6 separate regions of the Homo sapiens genome follow, and regions 1, 2, 3, 5 and 6 are each linked to region 4. The links come from fine-mapping of genetic effects on gene expression. A gene starts in region 4. Each other region holds a variant in brackets. All regions are shown on one strand. Distances are from middle to middle. Region 1 has its middle 22 kb from the start of TFDP1. Region 2 overlaps TFDP1 (transcription factor Dp-1). Region 3 overlaps SLC9D1 (solute carrier family 9 member D1). Region 4 holds the start of SLC9D1 (solute carrier family 9 member D1). Region 5 overlaps SLC9D1 (solute carrier family 9 member D1). Region 6 has its middle 30 kb from the start of TFDP1.

Evidence for each region. PIP is the estimated chance that this variant, and not a neighbour inherited with it, causes the effect.
Region 1: its variant is fine-mapped to the expression of SLC9D1 in cerebellum (GTEx, PIP above 0.99).
Region 2: its variant is fine-mapped to the expression of SLC9D1 in cerebellar hemisphere (GTEx, PIP 0.94).
Region 3: its variant is fine-mapped to the expression of SLC9D1 in skeletal muscle (GTEx, PIP above 0.99). The same link has a PIP of 0.9 or more in atrial appendage and left ventricle.
Region 5: its variant is fine-mapped to the expression of SLC9D1 in whole blood (INTERVAL, PIP above 0.99).
Region 6: its variant is fine-mapped to the expression of SLC9D1 in cerebellar hemisphere (GTEx, PIP above 0.99).

Annotation. Positions count from the first base shown.
Region 1 is chr13:113,559,781-113,564,850 of GRCh38, forward strand. No RefSeq gene overlaps it. Among named protein-coding and RNA genes, the nearest start is that of TFDP1, 22 kb to the right of the region's middle. The variant C/T (reference allele first, on the strand shown) is at 2,215.
Region 2 is chr13:113,589,542-113,594,611 of GRCh38, forward strand. All of the region lies in intron 2 of TFDP1 (transcription factor Dp-1), which reads left to right. Among named protein-coding and RNA genes, the nearest start is that of TFDP1, 7.3 kb to the left of the region's middle. The variant CTGTT/C (reference allele first, on the strand shown) is at 2,613.
Region 3 is chr13:113,535,249-113,540,318 of GRCh38, forward strand. SLC9D1 (solute carrier family 9 member D1) reads left to right here. Exons shown (of 13, transcript NM_017905.6): 10 at 4,109-4,259. Among named protein-coding and RNA genes, the nearest start is that of SLC9D1, 47 kb to the left of the region's middle. RefSeq lists a silencer at 3,202-3,390. The variant A/G (reference allele first, on the strand shown) is at 2,562.
Region 4 is chr13:113,488,802-113,493,871 of GRCh38, forward strand. It overlaps SLC9D1 (solute carrier family 9 member D1), which reads left to right and starts at 2,220. Exons shown (of 13, transcript NM_017905.6): 1 at 2,220-2,472. It overlaps DCUN1D2 (defective in cullin neddylation 1 domain containing 2), which reads right to left and starts at 1,910. Exons shown (of 7, transcript NM_001014283.2): 1 at 1,866-1,910. The coding sequence starts at 1,868. RefSeq lists an enhancer at 1,081-1,380 and a silencer at 1,611-2,530.
Region 5 is chr13:113,529,066-113,534,135 of GRCh38, forward strand. It overlaps SLC9D1 (solute carrier family 9 member D1), which reads left to right. Exons shown (of 13, transcript NM_017905.6): 9 at 4,980-5,070. Among named protein-coding and RNA genes, the nearest start is that of SLC9D1, 41 kb to the left of the region's middle. The variant C/A (reference allele first, on the strand shown) is at 2,891.
Region 6 is chr13:113,552,030-113,557,099 of GRCh38, forward strand. No RefSeq gene overlaps it. Among named protein-coding and RNA genes, the nearest start is that of TFDP1, 30 kb to the right of the region's middle. RefSeq lists an enhancer at 1-206. The variant G/GT (reference allele first, on the strand shown) is at 2,618.

The DNA of each region.
Region 1 (5,070 bases), 71 kb after region 4:
CTCCAGCCTGGGAGACAGAGCGAGACTCCATCTCAAAAAGAAAAAAAAAAGGGTGGGGTGAAGGGGGGCATCACTGTTTCAAATTTAAAGGTTGATAAAGGGGGTGATTTATCACTGAAGTCTCTCCGCTGCTTCAGTGGTCTGGGGTGAGACGTGCCTACGAGCCAATGTGTCCATAAGCCGATGTGTCCCAGCAGGTGTCACCTGCACCCCGTGGGAAAAGAGCACATTTCTGGGGGGCTTTCTCTCTAAGCCCATGCTCGCTTCAGGTGTCAGTGTTGGCTTGCGCCCCCTGAGCACACGCAGGTCTGGACGGGGTCGCGGGTCTGGACAGGGTCGTGGGTCTGGATGGGGTCGCAGGTCTGGATGGGGTCACGGGTCTGGACGGGGTCGCAGGTCTGGACGGGGTCGCAGGTCTGGACGGGGTCGCACAGCTTTGGACCGGGTCGAGGGTCTGGACGGGGTCGCGGGTCTGGACGGGGTCACGGGTCTGGACGGGGTCGCAGGTCTGGACGGGGTCGCAGGTCTGGACGGGGTCGCACAGCTTTGGACCGGGTCGAGGGTCTGGATGGGGTCACGGGTCTGGACGGGGTCGCAGGTCTGGACGGGGTCGCAGGTCTGGATGGGGTCGCACAGCTTTGGACCGGGTCGCGGGTCTGGACGGGGTCGCGGGTCTGGACGGGGTTGCACAGGTCTGGATGGGGTCGCACAGGTCTGGACGGGGTCGCGAAGGTCTGGACAGGGTCGTGGGTCTGGACAGGGTCGCAGGTCTGGACGGGGTTGCGCAGGTTTTGAGATGGGCATTTCCTCCCCCAGCATCTCAGGGTGTTCTTGGCAGCCCCTACCCCAGGACAAACCTAGTTTCCTGTGTTCCTGGTGTTTGTTTTACAAAAGCCTAAGCAGCAGGAACATTTGCAGACTCTGCTGAGAGGGCGAAAGGGGAGGCAGGCATGCAATGTAGGCAGAAGCTGGGAGGGGCTGGACAAAGCTTCTCAGACTTCAGAGTTGGGACCGGAGGGCAAGAGAAGGGCCCAGCTGCCAGGACGTGGTAGCTTCACAGAGGGCAGGGCCTCAGGACACTGGCCACTGCTGCCACATCCCGGGCACAGGGAGACAGCCCAAGGACAGACAGACGGGTCCCACGGGCCTGTGGGTGGGTGGCATACAGAAAGTGAGCCAGCTGCAGAAGCCAGAGAGCACTTCCTACCCAGCCGAACGGCGGCCAAGACCCCGCTGCTCACCAAGACGTGGCCTTGTGAGTCGGTCCTGGACGCCGGGGCTGACTAGCATGACGGTTTGCAAGGGAGGAAATGGTGGCCCTGGAGGTCCAGTTGTTCACTCAAGGCTGCTCAACAGGACAGTGACATTCACAGAGAAAGCCCTGTAATAGGGCTGCCCACCTTTCACACACTGAAAGCTGACTTGAGAGGCTGTTTTCTTCACTGTATTGATGGACAGCTTTGAGTTGGTGTTGGTCATGGCCATCTTCCCTCAACACTTTAATTGAAATGTGAAGTTACAGAATAAGAGGTCAAAGGCACCCTGGGGACTGCATGGGCACCTCATCCATGGGTAAGGCTCTGGGCCGGGGTTCACATCCTGAAAACCTGCGTTCAGGAGTCTGTTTCTCACTCGAGGGGACTTTGGTGTCTCCAGAGATGTTCACTGCGCTTTGTTCTCAGAAGGGCTGCTCTGAATCTCACGAAGGGAGTGAAGGGTCAAGGCATGTGAATGGCAGTGAGAGCCCCCTACGTGGACAGGGCCTTCTGTCCACAGAGTGGCAGAGAAGAGTTTGTTCCTGGAAGAGCTCCACCCCTGGAGCTGCAAGGCTGGGGCCCAGGCGCGCTACAGCTACAAGCTTCATCACAGCTCCCTCTGCTTAGGCTGTCACTGGCTCACGGTCACACAACCAGGAAGGAGTGTCAAGCACCCACCACGTAGCGCCCACTCCACGTCCCTCCTATCCTGCCCTCGGTTTCAGAGGCTCAGTTGCAGACCACAGAATCCCCACCAGCAGGTGGAAGCAGATTGAGTTTTACTCAGAGATAAAGACCGATGGTCTCCCCATCTGGGCTGAGAGCCGGTGGACGTCACTGCCAGGGATGATGCGGCAGGAGAGGTGCCCAAGCACGAGCAACACTGGCACTGGGCCCCAGGAGCTTCTCTACAGTCCACACAATGTCTAAAGGCTTTCCCGAAGGCCCAGGCCACTCC[C/T]GTGTGGCTGCACCTCTCGTTGGCCAATTCTGCCCCCCAGCTTCATGCAGATAAAGCAGTGTGTGGAACCCAGGTCGCAGGTGAAGGCCCAGCTGTGAGGGCCTCTGGCAAAGGGTGATCATACTGCCTGGGCTTTGTGGTGCAGAGGGGATCTGAGGACAGGCAGACTGGGTTTGGATTGATTCGATATGCCAGCCTGCCTGGAACTGTTAGAAGAAAAACTTTGGACTTCGTTCTACATTCAAAACAAGGTGGATGAGGGGGAAACATCCAGGGCCCCAGTGTGGTGTTATGCAGAATCCATGTGGTGCGGTTCTACTCTGTTTGTGGAGAGAGCATGTGTGTGTTTGCAGAGGGCTTGTAGGGCTACTCTGCCTCCCTGCCCGAGCTGACCCCAGGACAAGTAATCTGGGGAGTGGTCCCAGAGACACTGCCAGTGAGGCTGGAGAGGGCCCCGGTGTGGCATAGGTTCCCCGGGTGTGGGGGCTGAGCCTCTTCCCCTCCCGGCAGTCCTGGTGCCAGGCTCCACAAGGCAAAGATGCTCCGCGTGCCTGTGGGTGGTCCCGCAATGAGCTCTGTGGCTGCCAGATGCACCTCCCCTCCAAGGCCTCTGCTGCCTCCCAGTGGCTCACTTTGTTTGTGGCACTGCAAACCGAATCCTGTTAAAAAGCATAGTTAGAAGGCAGCACCATGCTCCTCACTCTTGAAAGCCGGCGGGTGGACCAAGTCTCTACCTTGAAATCCCAGTCACCGTGCTCAAAATTAACAAGTTGTCCAGTGACCTGATTCTGGGATTGCCACGCTGAGAGGTCGCGTTGTCTTCAAGCAAATACAAGAAAGCAAGTCTCAAGGAAAGCAGGTTTTGTTTCTAGAACATCAGAGGGACCCAAGCATGTACCACATTAGGCTTTTTAAACCCACATTCTACCCAGGGCTAGGTCAGCGAAGAAGGGCTTTCAATACTGAGGAAGCTCTCGGCTCCTCATTAGTCACTGAGATGACATTGTAACCATGGGAAGTCTGGGCCTTACCTCACTGCGTCCATCCCTGCCCAGTTACACCCCACTCCCACACTGCAAGCGGGGGCTTTAAACTGTAAATCTGTCAATGTCATTCCCTGAGATGACATAGGGGCCAACCTTGGGTCGTGTGAGCAACAAGATGCACAATGGCCGTGCTGATTGCAAACTGTAGAATAAAATAAATGCATGCAAGCTCACACTGCTGTCGTCACTGACCATGTCAACACGCAAACGGGGAAGAAGGACCCACTGCTCTTCCCTGCAGGAGAACCTCGATGGATAAATGCCAGAGGAAAGGGGGAAACAGAAAATCACCACGAGGCAAAGTCCACGGAACTGATTGCCGCTGACAAGACCCCCATGGATGCCAAAATCAGAGAAGTTCCAGGAGAATCAGGATTTGGTCTCCCAGTGTCTCCAGGACGATTATCCCCTACAGAGGAAGGACGGCAATTTGACCAGGAGACTCGGCAGACACCACCTGGACCTGTAGTTGGACACATCAGCTCAGGAGCCACTGAGAGACAGCCTTACCTCCACAGGATGCTTGCCAAATGGGCTTGACTTCATACAGTCCTGAGAACACGAGACAGCAAAATCCATGCCCAGGCCCCAGGACAAGGATGGTTAGGGCTGACACAGGGTCTGGCTCTGTCACCCAGGCTGGAGTGCAGTGGTACAATCATGACTCACTGCAGCCTCCAGCTCCTGGGCTCAAGCGATCCTCCCCACTCAAGTAGCTGGGACCACAGGCGCACACCACCACACCCGGGTAATTTGATTTTATTTTTTGGAGAGATGAGACCTCATTGTGTTGCCCAGGCTGGTCTTGAACTCCTGGGCTCAAGTGATCCTCCTGCCTTGCTCTCCCAAAATTGTGGGATTACAGGCATGGGCCACGGTGTCACACTGGGTGCTGGGTTTAATATCTGTGTCGTGGCCATGCTGGACACGGATATGAGGGAAGCCAGGGAGGATTATGTGGGAACTCTGGGTACTATTTCTGCAACTTTTTAGTAAGTCTCAAATTCATTCAAAACAAAAAGTTAAAAACAACAACAACAAAGAGCCATCCACTTGCCCCAAACTCTTCCTCAGCTCCCACTCACTCTGAAGATAAATTTCAGAGTCCTCCATCAAACTTAAAGAACTTCTCGCCAATTCCCTCCGGTCCACACGACCCCAGCTGTCTCTCTCCACTCATCCCTGAGATCTTAAATCCACGACACTTTCTTGGATCAACTTTCCCGACAACAACATTGCGAGGTCTCTCTCTGTGGCATTTTTGTAGCTCCTAACACCTCCTCCGCAGCACTTACCACGTCTGCAGTTAACTCAGAGCCTGAGAGATCCACCCCTCAGATCATCCGCAAAGACCCACAAGTGCTTCCCTCGGCCCCACAGACCCTTTCCACAGACCGAGAGACACTTCCCACAGACCCCCCCAACATATCCACAGACCCGAAGCCGTCCCCTCAGACCCACAGACCCTTCCCACAGACTCGGAGACCTTCCCCTCAGACCCATAACCTCCCCACCCCACAGACCTTCCCCACAGACCCACGGACTATCCCTACCTTCAGACCCTCCCCTCAGACCCGCAGACCCTCCCCAACCCACAGCCACTTCCCATAGATCCACAGACCCTCCCCTCCCTTCAAACCCTCCTCTTCCTTCAGATGCTCCCCTCAAACTATCCTCAGGCCCTCCCTTCATACCCACAGACCTTTCTGTCAGACCCTCCTCTCAGACCCACGGACCCTCCCGTCAGACCTGCAGCCGCTCCCCTCGAGCCTCAGACCATCCCCTCAGATGAAGGGACCCTCCCAACAGA
Region 2 (5,070 bases), 100 kb after region 4:
TGAACTGTCCTCGAAACATCTCAGGCCCTCCGCCTCAGGGCCTAGGGAGGCTGTCCTCTGGTTCCTGAACAGGGTGGCTCTGACCCGCAGATCTGTGGGCTCCCGTTGCAGGTACCGGTGGTGCTCGGAACCGTCCTCAGATTCAGTCTTGGAAGGTGCTTTGGCACCTCCTTAGAGTCGGACAGACCCTTGTCACGAGTCAGTCCAGCTGCAGGGGCTCAAGTTGTTCTAGAGCTGGGCTGGCAGGGCCCTTGGGTGAGGGAGTGTGGCTTGGCACTGGCATCTCAGCCTGCGGCCAAGTTTCCTGCCTGCCCAGGCAGCATGACCCTTGGTGGGATCAGGCAGAGCTCTGCCTCTCCCCTCCCTACCTCGGAACATCCTGTCGTCACACACGATTGTCCAGTGTCATGAAAGTTTGTAAGTGGGAAGGCAGGCAGATGATGAATTCATCAAACATTACAGGGATGCTTTTGCTGTAAGACTTCGGGATGTAGCCCGTGTGGGGCTGTTTCTGGGGTCCCGTTCGCCTCTCCAAGCTCCTCCTGCCATTGGTAAAGATGCAGGGCATCTGAACTCGCTCTTGGGCTGTGCGGGCACTTGGACCTGGTCAGCTCCCTGTGCAGAGAACGTGGCTGTGGACGTCACTGCCCGGTATTCACGTGCCTTGGTTGTGAAAGCCGTTCTGTGGTGCCTGTTTGTGTCCTGTGAGTTTATGGGGAAATCCTGAAATTGAGAGCTGGGGACCAAGAGAACTGTGTGCGTCCCACCATGGAGGCGTTTGAGTGATGCTGTCACGAGGCTCTGCTAATGCCAAGAGGGGACCAATGAGCTCCTCTAAGGGTCTACCACCAGGTGTCCTTTTACAGACCTGGATGGTGAAGTTCAGGCCTGAAGAGGTGAACCTGATGCAGCAACAAACTGCTGTTTCCTTCAGTGCTTGAAGGAGTGAGTTCTGGGAACAGGATTCAGCGACTCAGGCCTTCTTTTGTCCTCATAAAGAAACAACTTTACATTTGAGGTTAAGAAGGTTGTCAGTTTAGCCCCCTCAGGTTTAAGTGTTGAAGAAATCTATGATGACGTGCTTGTTTTTACAAGAGTCTTTTCATATTTCAGGATTTTTTTTTTCTACATAGGATGAGGTTAGAGAAACTCTGAAGGGATATTAAAAATTAGAAAATTATAGGTTGGGCCGGGCGCAGTGGCTCACGCCTGTAATCCCAGCACTTTGGGAGGCCGAGGCAGGTGGATCACAAGGTCAGGAGATTGAGACCATCCTGGCTAAGAGGGTGAAACCCCTTCTCCACTAAAAATACAAAAAATTAGCCAGGCATGGTGGTGGGCGCCTGTAGTCCCAGCTACTGGGGAGGCTGAGTTAGGAGAATGGCGTGAACTCGGGAGGCGGAGCTTGCAGTGAGCAGAGATCACGCCACTGCACTCCAGCCTGGGCGACAGAGCGAGACTCTGTCTCAAAAAAAAAAAAAAAAAAAAAGAAAAAGAAAATTATAGGTTAATTAAAAGTTTTGCCCCTGCTGGGCACGGTGGCTCATGCCTGTAATCCCGGAGGCCAAGGCGGGTGGATCACCTGAGGTCAGGAGTTCGAGACCAGTCTGGCCAACATGGCAAAACCCTGTCTCTACTAAACATACAGAAATTAGCTGGGCGTGGTGGCGGGCGCCTGTAATCCCAGCTACTCTCGAGGCTGAGAAGGAGAATCGCTTGAACCCGGGAGGCGGAGGTTGCAGTGAGCCGAGATCACGCCATTGCACTCCAGCCTGGGTGACAAGAGCAAGACTTCATCTCAAAAAAAAAAAAAAAGAAAAAAGTTTTGCCCCTAAAACATGCTTTAAAAGAGGTATTATAGGAACATCTGGTATAAAATTCAAAGAATAAAAAAGGACATCTTTTTTCTTACATAATCAGCTCTTTGTTAGCTCTTTACTTTTGGTATTTGGAAGAAATCTCTGGAGTTCGTTGTGTAAGAATTGGAAACCTCACCTTTGGTGCACAGCTCGATTTGCAGTAGAAGTATCAGGTGCTCTTTAGGGGATGTTAAAAACTTTTCACTCTTGGTATTTACATTAAAAAATACTTTGTTGTAGAACAATTAGAAAATCCAGATTTGCAGTTGATATTTAGCTTGACTTACAGTGTGGCTTTCTGCTGTTTGTCATAAGAGACTAGATTTGTCAAGTTTTGCTTAGAGAGGAGGACTGGTAGCAGCAGGTGGCTTAGACTACGTGTGGGGATGGATCTGCGAGGGGAAGGGCAGATGTCAGCGTTGGCTGAATTAGAGGCTGAATTAGGTGACCCCTCATCCCCCAGGTGTCTTACTCAGATGATTCTGGTTGTTCGGGTACTGGCCATGCACTGCTCTCTGTATCTTTGTGTGTAGCCCAAGCCTGGAAAAGCATCCGCCCTTTGTACCTTTTTCCCGACTGGCTGAGATTCCCGCAGCATCCCGACTCCGCTTCAGGGCTCCTGTGAGGACAGGGACTATGGCTTTTAAGTTGTCGCACAGGTCATGGGCACTATTCACATGTGCTGCAGGTAATTTTGAGACTCAAGGATGAAGAGTTATATCTGCCTCTTCCCGTTAGTCTTTTATGTGAATC[CTGTT/C]TGTTTGTTTGTTTCGAGACGGAGTTTCGTTCTTGTTGCCCAGGCTGGAGTGCAATGGCACGATCTTGGCTCACCACAACCTCTGTCTCCCGGGTTCAAGCGATTCTCTGACCTCAGCCTCCCAAGTAGCTGGGATTACAGGCATGCGCCACCATACCCTGCTAATTTTTTGTATTTTTAGTAGAGACGGGGTTTCTTCATGTTGCTCAGGCTGGTCTTGAACTCCCGACCTCAGGTGATCCGCCCGCCTTGGCCTCCCAGAGTGCTGGGATTCCAGGCGTGAGCCACCGCGCCTGGCCATGAATCCTGTTTTTCTATGGTCCAGTTTCTAAGGGATTCTGGTCTGATGAATGAAAACCTTGTGTGTCCCCTGTGGCTTTGGGATACAGTATCTTTTAACACAGGTGCTTGCCCTGTGCACCCTGGTCTTCTGTTCATTAACATCGCGTCACTGGGGTCTGAGGAAAAGAGACAGTGTGATCCGCTCCAGTGAATGGGGAAGCAGGAGAGGGTCAGAAACCTGAATGGGTCAGCCCAGAATCCAGCATTGCCAACACATCCCTGGCCCTCCCCTCCTGCCCAGGTGACAGGTGTGGCATATGCTGGTCCTCAGCCCTGCCCAGGAGACAGTTGTGGTGTCTGTGGGTCTTCAGCCCTGCCCAGGTGACAGGTGTGGTGTGTGCTGGTCTTCAGCTGTGCCCAAGAGACAGTTGTGGTGTGCACGGGTCCTCAGCCCTGCCCAGGTGACAGGTGTGCTGTGTGCTGGTCCTCAGCCCTGCCCAGGTGACAGGCGTGCTGTGTGCTGGTTCTCAGCCCTGCCCAGGTGACAGGTGTGCTGTGCACGCGTCCTCAGCTATACACAGGTGTCAGGCGTGATGCGTGTGGGTCCTCAGCCCTGCCCAGGTGACAGGTGTGGTGTGCGCGGGTCCTCAGCCCTGCCCAGGTGACAGGTGTGCTGTGTGTGGGTCCTCAGCCCTGCCCAGGTGACAGGTGTGCTGTGTGTGGGTCCTCACCCTGCCCAGGTGACAGGTGTGCTGTGTGCTGATCCTCAGCCCTGTCCAGGTGACAGGTGTGCTGTGCACGCGTCCTCAGCTATACACAGGTGTCAGGCGTGATGCGTGTGGGTCCTCAGCCCTGTCCAGGTGACAGGTGTGGTGTGCGCAGGTCCTCAGCCCTGCCCAGGTGACAGGTGTGCTGTGTGTGGGTCCTCACCCTGCCCAGGTGACAGGTGTGTGTGCGGGTCCTCAGCCCTGCCCAGGTGACAGGTGTGCTGTGTGCTGATCCTCAGCCCTGTCCAGGTGACAGGTGTGGTGTGCGCGGGTCCTCAGCCGTGCCCAGGTGACAGGTGTGCTGTGTGTGGGTCCTCACCCTGCCCAGGTGACAGGTGTGGTGTGTGCGGGTCCTCAGCCGTGCCCAGGTGACAGGTGTGCTGTGTGTGGGTCCTCACCCTGCCCAGGTGACAGTTGTGCTGTGTGCAGGTCCTCACCCACCCAGGTGACAGGTGTGGTGTACACGGGTCCTCAGCTGTGCCCAGGTGACAGGTGTGGTGTACGTGGGTCCTCAGCCCTGCCCAGGTGATAGGTGTGGTGTGCGCGGGTCCTCAGCCGTGCCCAGGTGACAGGTGTGCTGTGCACGCGTCCTCAGCTATACACAGGTGTCAGGCGTGATGCGTGTGGGTCCTCAGCCCTGCCCAGGTGACAGGTGTGCTGTGTGCTGATCCTCAGCCCTGTCCAGGTGACAGGTGTGGTGTGTGCGGGTCCTCAGCCGTGCCCAGGTGACAGGTGTGCTGTGTGTGGGTCCTCACCCTGCCCAGGTGACAGTTGTGCTGTGTGTGGGTCCTCACCCTGCCCAGGTGACAGTTGTGCTGTGTGCAGGTCCTCACCCACCCAGGTGACAGGTGTGGTGTACACGGGTCCTCAGCCGTGCCCAGGTGACAGGTGTGGTGTACGTGGGTCCTCAGCCCTGCCCAGGTGATAGGTGTGGTGTGCGCGGGTCCTCAGCCGTGCCCAGGTGACAGGTGTGCTGTGTGCAGGTCCTCACCCAGCCAGGTGACAGGTGTGGTGTACACGGGTCCTCAGCCGTGCCCAGGTGACAGGTGTGGTGTACGTGGGTCCTCAGCCCTGTCCAGGTGGCAGGTGTCCTGTGTGTGGGTCCTCACCCTGCCCAGGTGACAGGTGTGCTGTGCACGCGTCCTCAGCTATACACAGGTGTCAGGCGTGATGCGTGTGGGTCCTCAGCCCTGCCCAGGTGACAGGTGTGCTGTGTGCTGATCCTCAGCCCTGCCCAGGTGACAGGTGTGCTGTGTGCTGATCCTCAGCCCTGTCCAGGTGACAGGTATGGTGTGCGCGGGTCCTCAGCCCTGCCCAGGTGACAGGTGTGCTGTGTGTGGGTCCTCTGCCCTGCCCAGGTGATAGGTGTGGTGTGCATGAGTCCTCAGCCCTGCCCAGGTGACAG
Region 3 (5,070 bases), 46 kb after region 4:
CCATGTGAAAGGTTAAAAAATAAAGTTCATTTTGGAAAGTGGGCTTCTGCTTACCGAGACGACAGTCTTTACATGAGAGTGGCGGGAGATGCTCCTGGACCCCCATAGAGTCTCAGTAGTCCTGACAGCGCACCTGGGCACCGTCACCATTGTCCCAACAGTGCACCTGTGCACCGTCACTGTTCAGCCCGGCAGGTGCTCTTCCTGCTGTTTATCCCAGAGAAATGAAGCCGTGTTCACACAGTAGCCTGTACACAGGTGTTTATAGCAGCTTTATTCGTATTAGCCATAAACAGTCCAAAGGTACTTCAGTGGGTAAATAAATGTTCAACAAACTGAGCTATGTCCATACCACGGAACGCCACCCAGCAGTAAAACCACCGGCACACACCTCCGAGAACTGCGCAGAGTGGGCAGGCAGCCCCCAAAGGCTGCGTACTGTGTGGTTCTTTTTATGTCACATTTATGAGGCGAGAAGATTCTGAAGTTGAGGAAAGGCTCGTGGTTCCCAGGAATTGAGGATGGGCAGTCTGGGGAGGGGCTGGGGATGGCACTCGCTGTCTTCGCTGTGTCTGTATCGGCACCTGAGTGGGGGTCTGGGGAGGGGATGGGGATGGCATTCGCTGTGTTTGCTGTGTCTATATCGGCACCTGAGTCGGGGTCTGGGGAGGGACTGGGGATGGATGGCACTCGCTGTCTTTGCTGTGTCCGTATCAGCACCTGAGTGGGATCTTGTGCTGTAATTTGGCAAGATGTTACCATTGGGGAAACTAAAGGGTAATGAGGACTTTGTATTACTCTTAAAACTGCAGGTTAATATATAATTATCTCAAAATAAAAAGTTTCCGGCTGGGCGCGGTGGCTCACGCCTGTAATCGCAGCACTTTGGGAGGCCGAGGTGGGTAGATCTTCTGAGGTCAGGAGTTCGAGACCAGCTTGGCCAACATGGTGAAACCCCGTCTCTACCAAAAATACAAAAATTACCTGGGCATGGTGGCGCCTGCCTGCAGTCCCAGACACTTGGGAGGCTGAGGCAAGAGAATCACTTGAACCCAGGAGGCAGAGGCAGAGTTGATAGAGCAAGACTGCCTCAAAAAAAAAAAAGTTTCCATTTAAAAAAAGTAAATTAACAAAAATTGTTTCTTATATATAATTGCCTGCTAATGTTTTGTAAACCTGGGAGGAAATTATGATTTGCTTCTGGTTGTAGTGATTTTAACTATTTCAAGAGTGTGACTTATTTAAATTCTTACATTGTTTTATCCATTCCAGAGTATTTTTCTCTTTGAAAATAACTCCCAGCAGAATTGTCTTATCTGGACAACTTCCGTGTTGCCCTCCCAGTGGCTTCTTCCATTACAGTGACTCTGCCCGGCTCTCAGGTTTTCTCGCTCTCTGGGCAGCCCTCACCGTGCACCTGCTGCCAGCTGCTTGGGGTGCTGGGCCTTCTGCACATCTGCACCCGATGCCACAATGTATTCTTTCCACTGTTCAGTCTTAGGATTCGTTTCCATTTAGAGCTGCTGCCCATTCTCGTGTTTCTGGAAGGTGCTTTCACTGCTGATGAGCCTAGTAGAGTGCCTGTGGAGGTAGGGTTGCAGGGCCACAGTAAACAGGAGCTCAGCCGTAGCCATGACGTGGGTTTCCCCAAAGTCGCCATGCCAGCCCGTCCTGCTGCTGTGCCGTGAGCACGCCGTGCCCCACAGCCTCCTTGCACTTGCTCCAGGAGTGGAGCATCTCAGGGCTCTGATGGGGGCTCCAGCGTCCACTTCCCGATGGCTGGTCCCTCAAGCCCTTTCCAAAGCTCAGTGGCACCTGGGTGTTGTCCTGGCGGTGTTCCTATTAAAGCCTCCAGGTCGTTATTCTGTAGGGTGAGGATTCTCTTCTCATTTGTAGGAATTATTTTTTATATGCCGGCAGATTTTTTTGTCCTTCTTAAAAATTTATTTACTGAGATGAAATTCACATAAAATTCGCCATTTTAATCATTTGAAAGTCAGCCTTCAAAATGTTTTGCCACCATCACCACTACCCAATTATATCCACCTCCCCAAAGGAATCCCCATGGCGCTCAGTTCTCCCCCCAGCTCCTCGAGGCCATGGAGCCACTTCCTGGCCCCGTGGGCCGCTGCTTCTGGCCGTGTCGCGTGGCGGCTTCCGTGTCTGGCTTCCACTTAGCACCACGTCCTCCAGGCCTGGCCGCGTCGCCGTGCGCACCAGCACTTCGCCCCTTTTTATGGCTGAAAAACATTCCATTCCAGCATGTCAGATATGTTTTTGCAAATGTCTTGCAGTTTGTGACTCGCCTTTTCACTCTCTTAACGGTGTCTTTTGATGAACAGAAGTTCTTAATTTCAGCATCATCGCTTATGAATTGTTTTCTTCGTGGCTATCTTCTGTGTTCTGTGTGAAAGATCCGCCTGCCCCTGGGTCGTGAAGATGCTCTTTACTGTTGTCAGTGAGCGTTCTGCTGTGCTTTTCTCATTAGATCTTCAGTCCACCCAGAGGTGAGCTTCGGTTGTGTTGGAAGTGAGGGAGTGGATGAGGATTCATTCATTCAC[A/G]TGCGTTTCTGAATGCCATGCGTTGAAAAGACCTCCTTCCCCCCTTCTATAGCATCACCCTGTCAAAAACCAAGTAGCCGTGTGTGTGTGCGTGCATGTGCATGTGTGTGTTCTTTGTGCATGGCATGTGTACCTGTGTGCATGCATGTGTGTGCTTTGTGGTGTGTACATGTATGCTTTGTGGTGTGTGTACATGTGTGTGCTTTGTGGCATGTGTACATGTGTGGGGTATGCTTTATGTGATGTGTGTACATGTGCATGCATTCGTTTGCCTTGTGTGGAATGTTACATGTGCATGTATGTGTTTGTGCATGCATGTGTGTGCTTTGGTGTGGCATGTGTACATGCATGAATGTGTACTTTATGTGGTGTGTGGTTTGTGTACGTGTGTGTGGCATGTGTGCATGCATACATATGTGCTTTGTGTGGTGTGTGTGTGGTATGTGTTCGTGTGTGTCTGCTTTGTGTGTGGTGTGTGTACCCGTGGCACATGTGCGTGTGTGTGTGTGTGCACATGCCCCTCTGACTCTGCCCACCTGCCCTCGGCTGCACCGCAGCTTGATCTCCGTGTTTGGGTCCAGCTTTGTTCTGTGCTAGGGTCGTCTTGGCTCTATTCGTGCTCTTTCCAAATTCCACTCGAGTTTTTAGATTCAGCTGGTCAGTTTCACACACATGAGTCTCTTGGCGCTCCTGTGCGTCTGTTGGCCAGGGGAGGGAGCATCCGCCGCTCCGCCGTGCTGAGCCCTTGGCGCTGTCATCTGAGTCTTCCGTCTTTCGTGGGTCTCTGTGTCTTGCAGTGTCAGGTGCAGGCCTTCTTTTGGGTTGAATCCTCAGGATGTGATGTTTTTGTTGCCATTATAAATCGTAGTTCTTTACAAGTTTCTTTTCTTTTCGTCTGATGCTGCTATCGTCTACAGTTTTGTTTTCTCAAGATAAAAATCATCTTTCAGGTTGGCCGGTGTCAGCCGTGCGTCATCCGGAAGGCTGCCATAAGCCTGCGTTTCGCAGAGCTGCGCTGAGGCTCCCGTGTCGCGGCCGTCCGGCCGGCGCGCTGATGTGGCTGCAAACCTGGGTATCAGATCAGCCGCCGTGGACACGCCGATGCTTCTCGCTGGCTTCGTGCCCTCCCGGGGCTGTTGCTTGTCGTCCTGTCGCTTTCTCTCTGCTTTGAGGCTGGTAGTGGGAATGCGTTTCTAACACTCCCACCGGGCTATTCTGATTCAAGGTCAAGAAAATGTATCACAAATATTTAAAACAGTTGGAAAATATTCTCATTCAAAAATTTCAGCGCAATCTGTATGGATATTTGTTTCAAATATTTTTAAACAATTTTTTTCTCCCAGTAAGGTTAATTCAACTAATAGCAGCCTCCACATGTCACCTCTCAGACCCAGCAGACGACCCAGGACCAGACACACACACGCTCTGTTTGTGCAGCTTCTGTGTTTTGTCGTGGTGGCTCTGCTGGGTCTCGGGGTGGCCTTGGGATGGGGGTGACCCTGGTGCACTGTGGGGTCTCATGTAAAGCTGCGTCCTGCCTCTCTCAGGTCACGGAGCTGCTGGACGTCTCCATGGAGCTGGGCTGTTTCCTGGCTGGAGCGCTCGTCTCCTCTCAGGGCCCCGTGGTCACCGAGGAGATCGCCACCTCCATCGAACCCATCCGCGACTTCCTGGCCATCGTTTTCTTCGCCTCCATAGGTAATCTTCCTTCTTTACATTATGATTGTGTTGGTTAAACGTATGCAGAGTGGTTCTGTAATATGTTTACGTGCATATATATTTATATAGCAAAAATGGTTATCTTAAAAATTAAGTGTATTCAGCATATTTCAATTTGGATTGCTAGTAGCCAGAAACTGTTTTCTGCTTTATAGAGCGCAGAGAAATCTTATTTTATTATACTGTTTCTTCTGTCCAGCTTTTCCTTTAGGCTCAGGGTACGTGTGTGGGTCTGTGACACGGGTAGTGAGTGTCACAGGGCTTTGGTGTACAGATGATTTTGCCACCCAGGTAATAAGCATAGGACCCTCGGCAGTGTTTTAATCCTCACCCTCCTCCTCCCAGCCTCCACCTTGCCCAGGCCCCAGTGTCTCTTGCTCCCGTCTTTGTGTCCACGTGTACTCGGTGTTGAGCTCCCACTTGTAAGTGAGAACATGTGGTATCTGGTGCTCTGTTCTGGTGTTAATTCCCTGAGGAGAACGGCCTCCAGCTGCATCCGTGTTGCTGCAAAGGACGTGATTTCATTCTGTTACGGTTGCGTAACATTCCCTGATGTATATGTACCACATTTTCTTTATCTGGTCCACGGTTGATGGACAGTGGGATCCTTGGAATTCACAATCTGGGCCGATTCTGTGTCTTTGCTGCTGTGAATGGCGCGGTGATGAACGTGTGAGTGCGTGTGTCTTTATGGCAGAAGGACGTATGTTCCTTTGGGCGCAAACTCAGCAGTGGGATTGCTGGGTCGAATGGTAATTCTGTTTGCAGTTATTTGAGAAATCTCCAGACT
Region 4 (5,070 bases):
ACCACATCATGCAAATTAAATTATTAAGGCCAGCTTTTAAAGTGTGTACATGGGGTGGGGGGAAGGCATTTTCTAGGTTTCATTATTTCTGTTAAAATGTACACAATTCTTGAAATAAAAATCTGGACAATCCAGTGGAAACAGCAAATAAAATCTCTAAACTATAAAAAAGTCTCAAACACTTTAATTGTGACCTTGTGAAATACGACTCATATAATCTGGCACCAAGGATACCCATATGTAAAATGGAAAGAAATTACTCTTAAAATGTCCTTAGGGTCAACTTACCCGGGGCTGGCGGGCCAATCATGTTGATCGAATAAACTACGTAAGTTTATGGATCACTTTCACTCTGTTTCGGTATACAGCACGCTAGAGGGAGGGGGAGTTAAATTCATCCCTGCTCTTGGATCTCCAACCTCGGCAGCAGTGGAACGCTCCTCTCCAGCATCCTGAACATGTTCAAGTTTTCCCCAAACTAAGTTCCTGTCCACTCTGCCCCTGTCCTCCTAAAAGCTGGAGCAAGCTATCTCTACCTGCCCAGGTGTGCATCCTAACTCAGGCTACCTGGCTCCAGCCCGGCCTCCGCAGTGACCCCTAAAGGTCACAAAAGCTCGGCTGCTGCGGTCAGTGGGATCTTTTCAGCTGCTCTTTTGTTCAGCACTGCTGATGGCTCCCTCCTCCTTTAAACTCCATCCTCTTGGTTTCGACACATTCTAGTGTCCTGGTTTCTCCTACCAGCCCCCTCTCAGTCTCCTTTGTGGCTCTTCTCCCATCCTGAAGCTTGTCCTCACCCTCCACTCCCCTCTACACGTTACCGTGTCCCTTCTCCGGTGGCTCTCTGTGCCTTAGCCAGGACAATCTTTCAGCTCCTATACGTCATCATCGCCTACCACTAAGGGTCTGTGCATTCTGTTTCTTCTGCCTGGAGCCGCACACGGCTGGCTGCCCCGGAACCTCACTTTTTCTCTGGCTAATTTCCAGAGAAATTCTCCACAGTTCAACTCACACCCTCAGCATCTGACACCACTCCCACAGCCGCATCCTACAAGTTCCTGGAACCCGTGCCTTAGCCTTTGTCCCAACTGTGGTCAAACAATTGTGCATCTGGTGCCTGTCTCCCCTGCTGGGGCATCAACTCCCTCAACGCCAAGATCATGCCTGGCCCAGCACCAGTCACACCCAGCAGCACCTTGCTGGCCTCTGAACCGATGTGGACTGAATAAATCCCATCCATCACCATTTCCACCACATTTCAAAGTAACTGATGTGCACCTCCAGCAGCCTCCCTCCTGCGCTGCGGAACTCTACCAGCTCCACAGATGCACACCTACAGCCACGCTACAGCTCCCGGCTAGAGCCCGCGCTAGGGCCCCGCTGTGCCTCTCCCTCCCCTCCCGGCAGCAGGGCCTCCCCCGCGAATCTGAGCTTCTCGCGGATTCCTTCCTTGCGCTGTTTTGGTCAACAGCCTCAGCATCTGCACAGACGCCCGCAGGAGCAGCCGAGCCCTCGCCCGCCTCGACTGCCCGTTTCGAAGCCGCCCTGGGAAGCCCCCGGCCTGGGTTCCCGCTCGGCCCCGGCCCCTGCCCCAAGGCCCCTACAGTTCCTCCCGGCCCCCGCCCTCCGCTCACTCCCGGTCGTCCCTCGCGGCTCCGGGTCAAACCCGCGCTCCCCGCGGTCCCGCGCCTCCGACGCCACCGCTCCGGCTCGCGGGCCCGCGGCGCGTTCCTCCCTCGGATCCACGCGGAACGCCCCGCGCAGCTCGCTGGGCTCGGCCTCCCACATCCAGCGCGCCGCCTGCGCCGACCTTGGGGCCCGACCCCGACCCCGACCCCGACGGGCAGAGGCGACGCCGGGCCACCTACCATCTCCCCCGCGCCGCCCGCTTCTGGCCGGCCCCGGCCTTCTGCGCAGGCGCGGCGGCGGCTCCGCCCTCGTCCTCGGACGGCCGCGGCCCTCGGCTCCGGGGCAGTGCCGGGAGCCGGCCGCGGGGACTCCCACTCCCGGCATGCTCAGCGCCGCCCGGGGGCCCACGGGAGCTCGCGCCCCACAGCCCCTGCGCGTCCAGCCCTCTGCGAGGGCCTTGGCTCGCCCCTGCGGGGTCCAACGCCAGCCTGCGGCTGCCAGGCCCCACGCCGGCCAGGAAGTGCTCGCCGCCCGCGGCCGACGGGACCCGCCCACGCCCCGCCTCTTAAAGGGGGCAGTGACTGCGGCTGGGCGGGAGTCCGGGTCGGCTTGGCTGAGCGGGGGCGGTGCTGGGCAGGGCGGCGGCCGCTCCCTCCCGGACTCCCGGCCTCCCGGCCTCCCTGGTCCCGCCTGGGAAGGGATGCAAGGAAGCCCTCCGGCGCTGCGCTCCGAGGCGGGAGACAGCGTCCCCCTCCGCCCCTCGGGTCCTGGCGCCTCAGAGCCCGGCCCAGGCCGCGGAACGGTGATGCTCGGGCCGGACGGGCGGGCGCGGATCCCTGCGTCCCGGTGAGCACCAGGCCCGTCCATCCGGGGCTCTTTCCCGGGGTCCCCTTCCTTCCCTCCCTCCCTGGGGCTCCCCTCCCCTCTCTCCCTCCCCGGGGCTCACCTTCCCTTCTTCCCTTCCCAAGGGTCCCCTTCCTTCCTTCCCTCCCTCCCTGGGGCTCCCCTCTCTCCCTCCCCGGGGCTCCCATTCCCTTCTTCCCTTCCCAGGGGTCCCCTTCCTTCCTTCCCTCCCTCCCTGGGGCTCCCCTCCTCTCTCTCCCTCCCTGGGGCTCACCTCCCCTCTCTCTCTCCTCGGGGCTCCCCTTTTCTTGCAGGTATTGTCTCCCGGGGTCGGGTGGTCTGTGTGGCCTGGGGTCCCGCTCCTCCAGGCCTTGCCTAGGCGCTCTTCGCTGAGGCCCACGTTCTAACCTGGAATGGAACCTGCGTTCCCACCCTGGCCGCCCGGGTGGACTCGGGGCCTCCAGGGCCGGCCGCAGAGATGCAGCCCTGTCCCTGGCCCCCCTCCTGTGACTCCTAACGGCTCCTCACGGTGTCCATGACCCAGGGTGTGGACGCCTGCGCGGGGGAAGCAAGACCGCTGCGTATCGGGTCCCTATTCACTGCCTGTTTTTCTGATTATTCTGTCTTCCAAATTTATCTTATTTACCGGCTTTTTCAAAAGGAGTGTCTTAATGATTGGATTACTTGTGAAATATTTGTAGTTTTTTTCTCCTACAGGCTTGACTTAAATATTCTAAAGCTTTTTTGTGGTTGTTGAGACAGAGTTTTGCTGTCGCCCAGGCTGGAGTGCAGTGGCTGGTCAAGGCTCAAGCGATTCTCCCGCCTCAGCCTCCCCAGGAGCTGGGGCCACAGGGAGCATCACGCCCGGCTAATTATTTCATTTTTAATAGAGACAGGGTCTTGCTGTGTTGCCCAGGATGATCTCCAACTCCTGACCTCAAGCAGTTCGCCCACCTCAGCCTCCCAGAGCGCTGGGAATACAGATAATTGTGTCGTAATACAGCAGTGGCATTAACCACCGCACCTGGTCTTAGGTAGAATTTGAAAACCTTTTTATTTTGAGATGGTTGTAGATCACATGAAGTTGTAAGGAGTAATACAGAGAAATCCTACAGAGTGCCTTTGCCCTGTTTTCTCCAATGGTAGCACCTTGCAAAACCATAGTATATGTGGGGAATTTTCTTTGATCAAATCCCCTGACCTGTTGAGATTGCACCAACTATACATGCACTAGTGAGTGTGAATCTACACCTGTGTGTCTTCTCAATAAAATTGAGATTTTTTTTCACTCAGCCTTGAGATACATCCGCATTGTTATGTGTATCAATTGCTCAAGATGCAGAAATTCTAAGAATTCATTATTTAAAAAGTAATCCCAGCACTTTGGGAGGCTGAGGTGGGTGGATCACCTGAGGTCAGGAGTTTGAGACCAGCCTGGCCAACATGGCAAAACACCGTCTCTACTAAAAATACAAAAATTAGCTGGGTGTGGTGGCGAGCGCCTGTAATTCCAGCTACTTGGGAGGCTGAGGCAGGAGAATTGCTTGAACCCGGGAGGCAAAGGTTGCAGTGAGCTGAGATCACAACACTGCACTCCAGCCTGGGTGACAAGAGCAAAACTCCGTCTCAAACAGCAACAACAACAAAAAAAACACATTACAGGAATCCAAAGTGTCTTTTTAATAACTAGAACAGCTAAAGATGTTTACTAATTTGCTCAAAAAACATGCTACAATTTAGTAGTCAGTAGGATTTTGGAGGCAAGTTTGAAGATAAAATGAAATGAGTTTGAATAAAGGTGATTTGTATTTTAAGGGTCCATAAATAATTTCAGTTTCATGTTATGAGTATGTTTCAGTGGGAAATTTTAGTATAACTACAACTAAAATCCTCAAAGGTTTCTCATAAAAATTATAGCTCCCTTAGAGGGACAACTAATTTTAGGAACCTGATTGAGGAAGGAACCAGAAATGAACATAGAGGTGTCATTCACACATGAGCTGTGTTGAAACTTATTTTTCTGAAGCATAAAATCCATCAAAGAATCACTTTTTGGGATCTTTTGGGGAAACTGGGAAGTGTAAGCAAAGCATCTCAGATTTCTGTCTTGGTTCTGGAAAATACTAAAAGTTCACTTGTGAAGTAGCTGTTGATTTATTTAGCTCCGTTGGACCAACCGAGAGAAGCTTAGCAGTTGAGTGAGTCATTAAAATAACAGCTCAGCTATATGGCTAGGCATGACTAAGTGATTGCCTCATTGTTTGTTTTTAAGGTGGTAAATGTGTACTTAAAGTTGTACACGTGTACTTAAAGTTGTATTGAAACTAACATAAAATTGAGTGATTGGAACAGCACATTATCATTTATCCTATCTTGTTAGGAAGTTACCTGTTCTAGGTAAGTGAATTCTCTGTGGAGTGTGCTTCTCCTTTTGGGAGTCAGTCTCCAAGAATGTTTTGAATTGAACACTTTCTAACCAGAATATAGTCTTTTCTTGGTGACTTTTGCTTGTAATTCTGATCAGTACTGTTGTCTAACACAGTACTGTCTTCAGGACCTGCTGGGGTGCAGACAGTCGCTGAGCCTTCACCGAGTCATCTG
Region 5 (5,070 bases), 40 kb after region 4:
ACTGCCACGTTCTTTCCAGTTACACGCAGGTCTAACATGCTGGCATAAGACATTGTCTTAATCAGAACACTTTTAAAGCTTTTTTTTCCCTTTTTTCCAATTCAAAAAATTAATGCAGTACAGGTATTGATCCCACCGAAATTGTTCTAATTCAGTCATGACACTTCATGTTTACAAAGAGTTGATGACTTGGAAAAATACTCTGTAATGCTGTTAAACTTAAGAAACAGAATCGGGCCGGGTGCAGCGGCTCACGCTGTCATCCCAGCGCTTTGGGAGGCTGAGGCAGGAAGATGGCTTGAGAGCCGGGCGCAGCGGCTTCCGCCTGTCATCCTAGCGCTTTGGGAGGCTGAGGGGGGCGGATCACGAGGTCAGGAGATCGAGACCATCCTGGCTAACACGGTGAAACCCCGTCTCTACTAAAAATACAAAAAATTAGCCAGGCATGGTGGCACGTGCCTGTATTCCCAGCTACTCGGGAGGCTGAGGCAGGAGAATCACTTGAACCCAGGAGGCAGAGGTTGCAGTGAGCTGAGATCACGACACTGCACTCCAGCTTGGGCGACAGAGCAAGACTCTATCTCAAAAAAAAAAAACAAAAGAAACAGAAACAGAGTCAGAATTGTAGACCACGTTCCTCCTGACGCTAACACAGAGCTCCCATTTGACCCAGCTGTTCGCTCCTCGGTATTTACCCGCAAGAAACAAAAACACACATCCACATTCAGACTGATACACGGTGGTGATGGGGGTACAACAGTGTGAATCCACCTGATACCACAGAGTTACACACTCAGAAATGGTTAACATGGTACATTTTATTGTATGAGAGTTTCACCACAATGAAAAACTTGTACCTGAATGTTCAAGCAGCATTATTCGTATAGTTAAAAAGTATTAAGAACTCAAATGTCAATTAGATAACAGGTAGATATACAAAACATACTATATTCAGCAAAGGAATATTATTCAGCCATAATATAGAATGAACATTGATTCATCCTATAGCACAGATGAAGCACGATGCTTCTGAAAGAACCGGACAAAAAGTCCACACGCTGTGTGATTCCATTCATACCAACGTCCAGACTAGGCCAGTCCGTACAGACAGGATGAATTACTGGTTGCCGGAGGGTGGGGAGGTTGGGGGAGATGGGGAGGAAGTGCTGATGGGTACAGGGTTTCTTTTTGGGATGATGAAAGTATTCTAACATGGATTGTGGTAATAGTTGTGTAATTTTGTGAATATGCTGGAAACCATTGAATTGTATACTTTAAATGGGTAAGTTGTATGGTAAGTGAATTATATATCATAGCTGTTAAAAATATATACGATATTTTAATTAGACATAGAAGAACATGAATAGAGACTAGAAATATATATATGTATATATAACAAGGTGTTAATGATTTTCTACTAGTAGACTGGTAGATTTGTACTAAGTTTTTTCTACTATATATACTTTTCTGTAATTTAGGAAAACCTCCCTTTCAATTTTAATAACGAGGGAAAATTTATATTTAAAATATCAAAGAAATAAAATTAGTTGCAACATAATAGACTCTGCTTTCTTATTAAGCTTTATTCAGAATTAACCTTGATCATTCCTAGAGGAAAGAACTCTTTCCCTCAAAATATTTCACAGGTAAAGAACAGAACACAGAAGGCTGTAATAAAGCAAAACAGATGTTTATGCCCATATTAAAGACAGAGGCTTATGTTTCTTATTTTATAAAGGTCTCCTATACCTTAATAAGAAAAATATGAATAACTGAGTTTGAAAACAGGTCAGCAGCAAAGCAGCTATTAGACTTGAGTAAAGTAGGAAACACCCACCCTCACACCAAAGAAGGGTGATGGCACCACCCGCCCATCAGACTGGGCACCATTAGAAGCTGGGTGGTGCCCAGGTTGGGAAGTGGGGTACCTTGGGCATCATTGTTGGGATGGGAATTGGAGCAACTTCCTGGCGGCCCACCAGACAGCACCTGTCATAGTGGGAGGCACCCGGCTCCCTTAGTGAGCACCCACTGCCACCATCAGTGGACCCACAGGCTCCTTGGTCACCGCAGCGCCCAAGAACCAGGATGGCCGTGGAGTCAGTGTGAGAACCGGGACAGCCCTTGCATCTGGCTGAGCAAATGATGGTGCGTCCCGCCAGGGAGCCCTTCCTCACCTGTCCGCTGGCCAGACATGCTGATGGGAAGCTTGTCCACTCACCTGTCCGCGGGCCAGACGTGCTGATGGGAAGCTTGTCCACTCACCTGTCCGCAGGTCAGATGTGCTGATGGGAAGCTTGTCCAAACACGCTGAGACAGTCAGAACAGCCGTGGACACGGCGCCCCGTATGTGCAGATCAAGAGCAGCACACGCGTGGACCTGCAGGTGGCACGGCGCCCTGTACATACAGATCAAGAGCAGCATGCGTGTGGACCTGCAGGTGACACGGCGCCCCGTACGTGCAGATCAAGAGCAGCACACGCGTGGACCTGCAGGTGGCACGGCACCCCGTACATGCAGATCAAGAGCAGCACACGCGTGTGGACCTGCAGGTGGCACGGCGCCCCGTACGTGCAGATCAAGAGCAGCACGCGTGTGGACCTGCAGGTGACACGGCGCCCCGTACATGCAGATCAAGAGCAGCACGCACGTGGACCTGCCGGTGGCACGGCGGCAAGCCGGAATCCTGAGAAACTTGTCACGGTGATTGTCTTTCAAAGAGGTCAGAGTTGAGCGCACTGTGGCTTCTGATTGGCATCTTTCTGAGCCCTCATCACTGTGCATTTAATGGACACTGTGGGAGTCTTCTGGGAATTAGACCTAAATCCAAACCCTGGGGATGGTGGCTGTGGAGAGCTTGTGTAGCCGTTAGGGGCTTGGTCCTGGAGC[C/A]AGATACCTGAGTTGTCCCCAGCTCTCTGCACTGGGCGTGTGGCCTGGAGCAGATCACCTGGTCTCTGCCCCTGTTCTCATCTGTGACGTAGCAGTGGGGATCGTACAGCTCTTACCAGGCTGCCATAATAGGTGGCACACAGTGCTCTGCACACAGTGCTCTAGGGGCTCAGGATGCAAGGGTGAGCTCAGCAGAGGACGTTCCCCATGTGGGGAGCTGCTGTTGTGTTTTGGAGAGGCAATGAATGAATGATGCACAAATGAGTGGTAGACAAGACATCCGCAGCAGGGAACCGCCCTGCGAATGATTCAAACAGGAAGAGGAGCTGGTGAGCAGCCGTGAGCCCCCAGACGCACAGGCTCTACCTTTGGAGATGTGGCTGGAATTTGAGGAATGCAGCTAAGCCTGTTGGGAGAAGAGTCTAGGGTAGGGACCTCCCAGGCAAGGGGCTCTGTGGCCTGTGTGGGTGGGCTGGGGCAGTGGAAGGGCATGGCAGGGCAGAGAAGCCTGGGTTCCATCCCAGCGTCCAGGAGCTGATTGAGGGTCCTGATGAGCTGTCTGGGCCTCTGTGTGGAGAGCAGATGGATCAGGAGGAGGCCACTGGAGCTGTGGGGGAAGGGGTGGCAGCCCAGGCAGGGACCACGGTGCTGGGCCCAGGGCCAGACGTGGGCCTGGCAGTGTGGCAAAGCTGTCAGGAGTGCGGCAGGCCTGGTCTGCTTGGCCGTGAGTCTGTCTCCGTTCCTGCCAGGGCTGCAGAAAGGGGCCTCTCTCTGAGTCGCGGACTTGGGCCCTGCAGTGAGCTCTGAAGGACGCTGCCTCCCTCCTTCTAAGTCGCAGACGTGGGCCCTGCAGCGAGCTCTGAAGGACGCTGCCTCCCTCCTGAAGTCGCAGACGTGGGCCCTGCAGCGAGCTCTGAAGGACGCTGCCTCCCTCCTACTGAAGTCGCAGACGTGGGCCCTGCAGCGAGCTCTGAAGGACGCTGCCTCCCTCCTGAAGTCGCAGACGTGGGCCCTGCAGCGAGCTCTGAAGGACGCTGCCTCCCTCCTGAAGTCGCAGACGTGGGCCCTGCAGCGAGCTCTGAAGGACGCTGCCTCCCTCCTGAAGTCGCAGACGTGGGCCCTGCAGCGAGCTCTGAAGGACGCTGCCTCCCTCCTACTGAAGTCGCAGACGTGGGCCCTGCAGCGAGCTCTGAAGGACGCTGCCTCCCTCCTGAAGTTGCAGACGTGGGCCCTGCAGCGAGCTCTGAATGATGCTCCTTCACAGCTGCTTCTGTGGCCGTTGTTGATCCCTTCATTCCATCCCTTCATTCCATCCCTTCATTCCATCCCTCTCTGCTTCAAGCCCAGCTCTGCTGTGGTTCCCCGAAGGAATCATGGCAGTTTGAGATTTGCGTTTCCAGCACTTCTGCTTTAAGCCAGACTGCAGAGGCTGACGCCCTTGGGAATCATAGGTTTCCTCCACCGAGGAAACTTTCACCAGAATTGTGGCCTGAGTGGTGGAAGGCTAAGGTTAAATATAGGTATATTTGTGAAGACGGCAGATAGTGGATGTCCGCTGGCTGAGATGGTGATCTATTCTGAGATCTGGGTAGTATATTCTAAACAGAACATAGCAAAGGATCACTTTCTCTGTGTCTGAATCACAGACACAGACCTCAGAGCTGGCTGCCTCGGGAGTGCCTTGCTGACGGTCGCTGGAGTTCGTCCATCAGGCGACTGCGGTGGGGCACGGAGAGCAACCGCTGCCTGGCGGAGACTTTGATGTGCGGCTGAGGCCTGGCGAGGAATTTTATCGTCAGGCATCAGCTGAGATAGGAACGCTGTCAGTCGAGAATTTTCACATTCTAGAATACGCATTCACCCCAGAGTATTGACTGCAAACCAATGCAGCTTCCACCTTTGGCTCAACACAACTTAATTTCTGAGATGAGTATGATTCATAGGTGTTTTTGTATTTGAAAATAAAGATGTGTATGATTCAGGTAATTTATTTTGTAGCATGTTAAAGAAAAAAACTGAAAGATTATTTTATTGAGTTTTAGAGAACTGTGTTTTGGAAGTGAAATCACGTCTCTTTTTTCTTTCCCAGCATTGTCGTGGAAGTTCTCCGAATCCTGGTTTTGATTGGTCAGATTCTTTTTTCACTAGCGGCGGTTTTTCTTTTATGTCTTGTTATAAAG
Region 6 (5,070 bases), 63 kb after region 4:
AGGTTACGGTGAAATCCTACCGGATCAACATCTGAGACCAGGCTTATGGAAGTGAGCTTCCAACCTGAATGCTTGAGGCTGAGGGGGTGTTGGCGGCCTCGATAACAACCTGAACAACAGCTGGCAGCAGGGAGTGCCTGGGCCATGTGTCCCCAGAGCACTGACCTGGGTGGTCCAGTCTCCTGTCTCGAGCTCCAGCCATGAGCTTACACGGCCTTCACACTCCCCCCAAAACCAGCCATTCTCAACCAGCGAGGCCTCTGTGTCTGCAAGGCCAGTTTTATTTCTTCTTTGATATTTCTGCTTCTGTGTCCTTTCCCCGCTGCCCAAAAGCTGCCTCCCGTCTGCCCATGCAGAGCTGTATTACCCAACAACACCCAGCTCGACTCGGACAGCACCCAGCTCAACTCGGACAGGCCCCGGGAAAGTAAGAGCTTGGGGGGAGACCCACAGGCCCACACGGCAGCACTGCGAGGCTAGACCGTAAACATGGGTCAATTGAATATTTATAAACAGGATACTTAAAGGTTCTTGGGATATTGAACAATGAAAGAAATTGTACTATTTGAAAATTCTATTTCACATGAAAATGTAAAATTTCAGCATATCAGAAAGCATCGTGAACAAATTTGAAAGCCAAGCAAAACTGGGAAAAATATTTGGATAAAAAAATCCTAACACTGGTACATAATACATAATAGGCAGTTCATATGTATTTTTTGTATGAATGAAACTTACAATACTTTTATTAATGTCATGGGAACTTATAAAAACTGCATGGAGATATTTTAAAGAAAAAATTTTGAAACCCATTTTGGTTTTCTTTATAATTCCTTCAGTTCAGCCCATTCCTGTAACCACGTGCTCATCCCCACAGGACTAGGCAGTGCCCACCCTTGGTGCCCTGCAGTGCACCGCAAGGACATGGCCGTGGCCTGGAGCCGCGTCCCTGAGTTCCTGGTGGGCCGCGTGAGTCTCCCTGTTCCTCCCTGCTGCCTTCTCCTCTCCTGGCTTCCCCACCCCATACTTCCCTGATGATATGGTTTGGCTGTGTCCCCACCCAAATCTCATTTTGAATTGTAATCGTCATGGGTTGACCGAGGGAGGTGATTGGATCATGGGGGCAGATGTCCCCCAGGCTGTTCTCATGATAGTGAGTTCTCACAAGGTCTGACGGTTTTAAAAGTGGCAGTTTGTTCTCGCGCTCTCGCTTCTCCATCCTGCTGCCTTGTGAATAAGGATGTGTCTGCTTCCCCTTCTGCCGTGATTGTGTTTCCTGAGGTCTCCCCAGCCATGGAGAACTGCAAGTCAATTAAACCTGTTTCCTTTATAAATTACCCAGTCTTGGGGAAGGCGTGAGAACAGACAAACATGCCTGAGTCCCCGAGTCTGTGATGCTCCTCATTCTTCAGCACGGCCTGTGCCCGGGACGGGGCGCTCCTCCAGTGCAGAGCTCACACCATGACTGTGGTGTCCTTCAAATAACACTGCTGCTGCCAGCTTCCCAGGGACTCTTCTCCTGTGTGATTCCAGTGCCTTGCCTATGTCCCTGCTAATCTTCTGGAGTTTAGGGGTCCGTGCGAAGCCCACCCCACCTGAGTCCTTTCATCCTGGGTGCCTTCACCTCCGTCCAGGACTCCGGGGTTGCAGCCACACATGCTCATGTCACCGTGAGGCCCAGCCCTCCAGGGCCTGAGATGTACAGATGCTATCCCCCTGGGCACCCAGTGTTTCCCCTTCCTCCCTGTCTGCCTTTTGCTCAATCTCTCAGCGCCCTCAGGAAGCCCTTTCACAGCTCAGCAGGGAAACCTCTGGGCTCCTCCCCCTCCAGCAAGTCACCTGGAAGCTCTCAGGCTGGCCATGGAAAGCTGAACCCACTGCCAGGGGACTGGACAGAGAGGCTGGTCTCATTTTCCAATCCCTTCCAGAAGGAAGGAGGATGCTTCTCCTGAGAGCAGCGACAGGTTTGTGTCCTGTGACCTCTGCCTTCCCTCGCCCGGGGGAGGGTGATGGGGCGTCTTTTTGGCTTTGGTTTAAGTAGCAAAAGAGATGGAGTGTTCAAAGGATTGAGGGGTCGGCCGAGGGTGGGGCTTCTCAGTGAGGGGCGGGTCCTCTGGGCGTCATGAGGGCCTGGGGAGAGGACCCTGACCCACTGCCAGGGAGCTGTGCCAGAGGTTCCCATGGGACATGGAAGGGGAACCGACATCCGTTTCTGCACTGGGGTGTGGACACCTGGCCCCACACCACCTAGGTTCCCCCACAGGGGCCTGAAGACTGGAGGTTCTCTCCAGAATGTTCTGGTTTGATTCTGAGAGCAGGAGAGACACCCATAAAAATGATTGGGGTTAAATTTCTGGCCAGGTAGATGGGAACTCACAGCCAAAATTTAATTAAGGAGAATAAACAATTGTGCCACGCCATGCATCCAAGTCCGGCAGGGCAAATCCACACCCGCTACTCACTGAGCTTCCCCTGGGCCGGAATGCTCCCCCTACATTTGCAAGAACAAAGCCTCCTTCCTGTAGAAAAGAAAACAAAAGTAAAATAAAAAAGAACAAAGCCATTGGGCTTGGGTTTCCTCTTTCCAATCAATCGATCGGTCATCGTCAACACTTTG[G/GT]TTTTTTGTTGTTGTTTGTTCGTTTTTTTGAGATGGGGTCTCGCTCAGTCACCCAGGCTGGAATGTGATGGTGCGATCTCGGCTCACTGCAACCTCCGCCTCCCGGGATCAAGCGATTCTCCTGCCTCAGCCTCCAAAGTAGCTGGGATTACAGGCTACCACCATCATACCCGGCTACTTTTTGTATTTTTGTAGAGACGGGGTTTCACCATGTTGGCCAGGCAGGTCTTGAACTCCTGACCTCAGGTGATCTGCCCGCCTCGGCCTCCCAAAGTGCTGGGATTACAGGCATGAGCCACCGTGCCTGGCGTCGTCAACGCTTTGAAAAGGTATGATGAAATCGGGCCACCTGTGATTTTTACCAGTTGAGCATGAAGAAGCGAACCCCTGAGCATGAGCTGGGCAAAAGTGAGTGGTGAAAACATGGTGAAGAGCTAGGGCTTTTCAGGAAAGAAGAGGAGACTCACTGGGCTCCCTAAAGTCATCAAGAATTTGGGCATCAGATTATCAGAAGTTAAAATTTATTTTCACCTATAATCCAGGGGGTTGGGACAGAGAGGTGTGGCTTCCTCCCAGAACTGTGACTTTACCTCATGAACTTCCACAAGGCAAGGGGCTGCAGGACTGTCCTCTAGACGCTCCGGGTGAGCCAAGACAGGAGACCTGACATCAGCTCACCTTGGGGAATGACACCCCCGGAGACAACCCACCCTTTCACAGAACTTCCAGTGAGCATTTTAGCATCTTAACTCTTCCATGTGAATGAACAAGGCTTGCTGCTCCCCAGGCTCATGCCTCTGAAGTCCCAGTGCTTTTGGAGGCTCAGGCAGATGTATCGCTTGAGCCCAGGAGTTTGAGACCAGGCTGGGCAACATGATGAGACCTTGTTTCTATGAAAAACACAAAAATTAGGTGGGTGTGGTGGTGCTCAGGTAGTCTCAGCTACTCAGGAGGTGGGAGGATGGCCTGAGCCCGGAAAATCGAGGCTACAGTGAGCCATCATCATGCCACCGCACTCCAACCTGAGCAACAGAGTGAGACCTGTCTCAAAAAAGAATGTATATATATATATATATATATATATATGGATATGAGTGAACAACCTCCACCTAGGGCTTTCCTAAAGGTAAGACCAAAGCAGAAGAATGAAAACAGAGAATTCAGGAAGCAGAAAAAAATGTCATGGAAAATGTTTTAAAAACCTATCATTAGGCCAGGCGCAGTGACTCACGCCTAGCACATTGGGAGGCTGAGGTGGGCGGATTGCCTGAGCTCAGGAGTTCAAGACCAGCCTGGGCCACATGGTGAAACCCTGTCTCTACTAAAACTACAAAAAAAAAAAAAAAAAGCCAGGTGTGTGGCCCGGCATAGTGGCACCCAACTGTAGTCCCAGCTACTCGGGAGGCTGAGGCATGAGAATCGCTTGAACCTGGGAGACAGAGGTTGCAGTGAGCGAGATCACACCACTGCACTCCAGCCTGGGCGACAAAGCGAGAGTCTGTCTCCAAGAAAAAAGAACAATAAATAAATAAAATAAAAACTTACCATTAATACACTGTCAGGGATAGTACATCCATAAAATAAGAACAGAATATCATGAAAAATGATCAAGAAAAAAATCTCTTTGAAATGAAAAAAAAAAAATTACCAAGATAAAAACGCTCAGGGGAGATGGAAGAGACGGTGGAACCTAGGAGCTTGGCGAATGCTCCTGAGACCTGGGTTCTTTCCCAGGTGGCTTCTGGCAGCTCTGTCCCTGGTGTCTTTGGTTCTCTTTTTCTGGACCCTCTTTTGGCTGGATGATGGACTGCCTGGTTTGATCCTCTAATTTGCTTACATTTTCCCTGCCATTTTCCATTTCTTTGTCTCAGTCATATGGGCACCACAGATACCCACACAGTAAATGAAAAAAGTCCCCTACAAATCACATCATCACAAAATTTCAGAACACTGAATAAAGTTCTAAATAGCTTTCAGAAAGAAACTAAATCAGCTCTCAGGCAAAGGGACAGAGATAAAAAGGCCTTGGGCTTCTCAACAACACGAAAGCAGTAGAGTGAAGCTGTTGAGATTCCCAAGGAAAATGAATTCCACCTAGGATCCAATACCTGGAGAATGAGCCGTGAAGAGCATAATAAAGATGTCTTCAGAGTCATGAGCCCCTCCTCTGGAAGCTGCTGTAGAAAATGTTTCAAAACCAAGAAAGATGGCTTGGGGTCCAGCACACAGAGCACCACCCTGAGGGGATTCCAAGCAGAGTTCTGGGACAAGAGCTGCCCACCTGGGGAGAGAGCAGCTGGTCAGCTTGGAGGAAGGGAGCTCTCCAGGAAACAAACCACTGGTCCTCTACCTACACAGGTGTGTGTGTGTGCAGGTGTGTGTGCACAGGTATGTGTAGGTGTGTGGGTGTACAGGTGTGTGTACAGGTGTGTGTGTACAGTTGTGCATGGGTG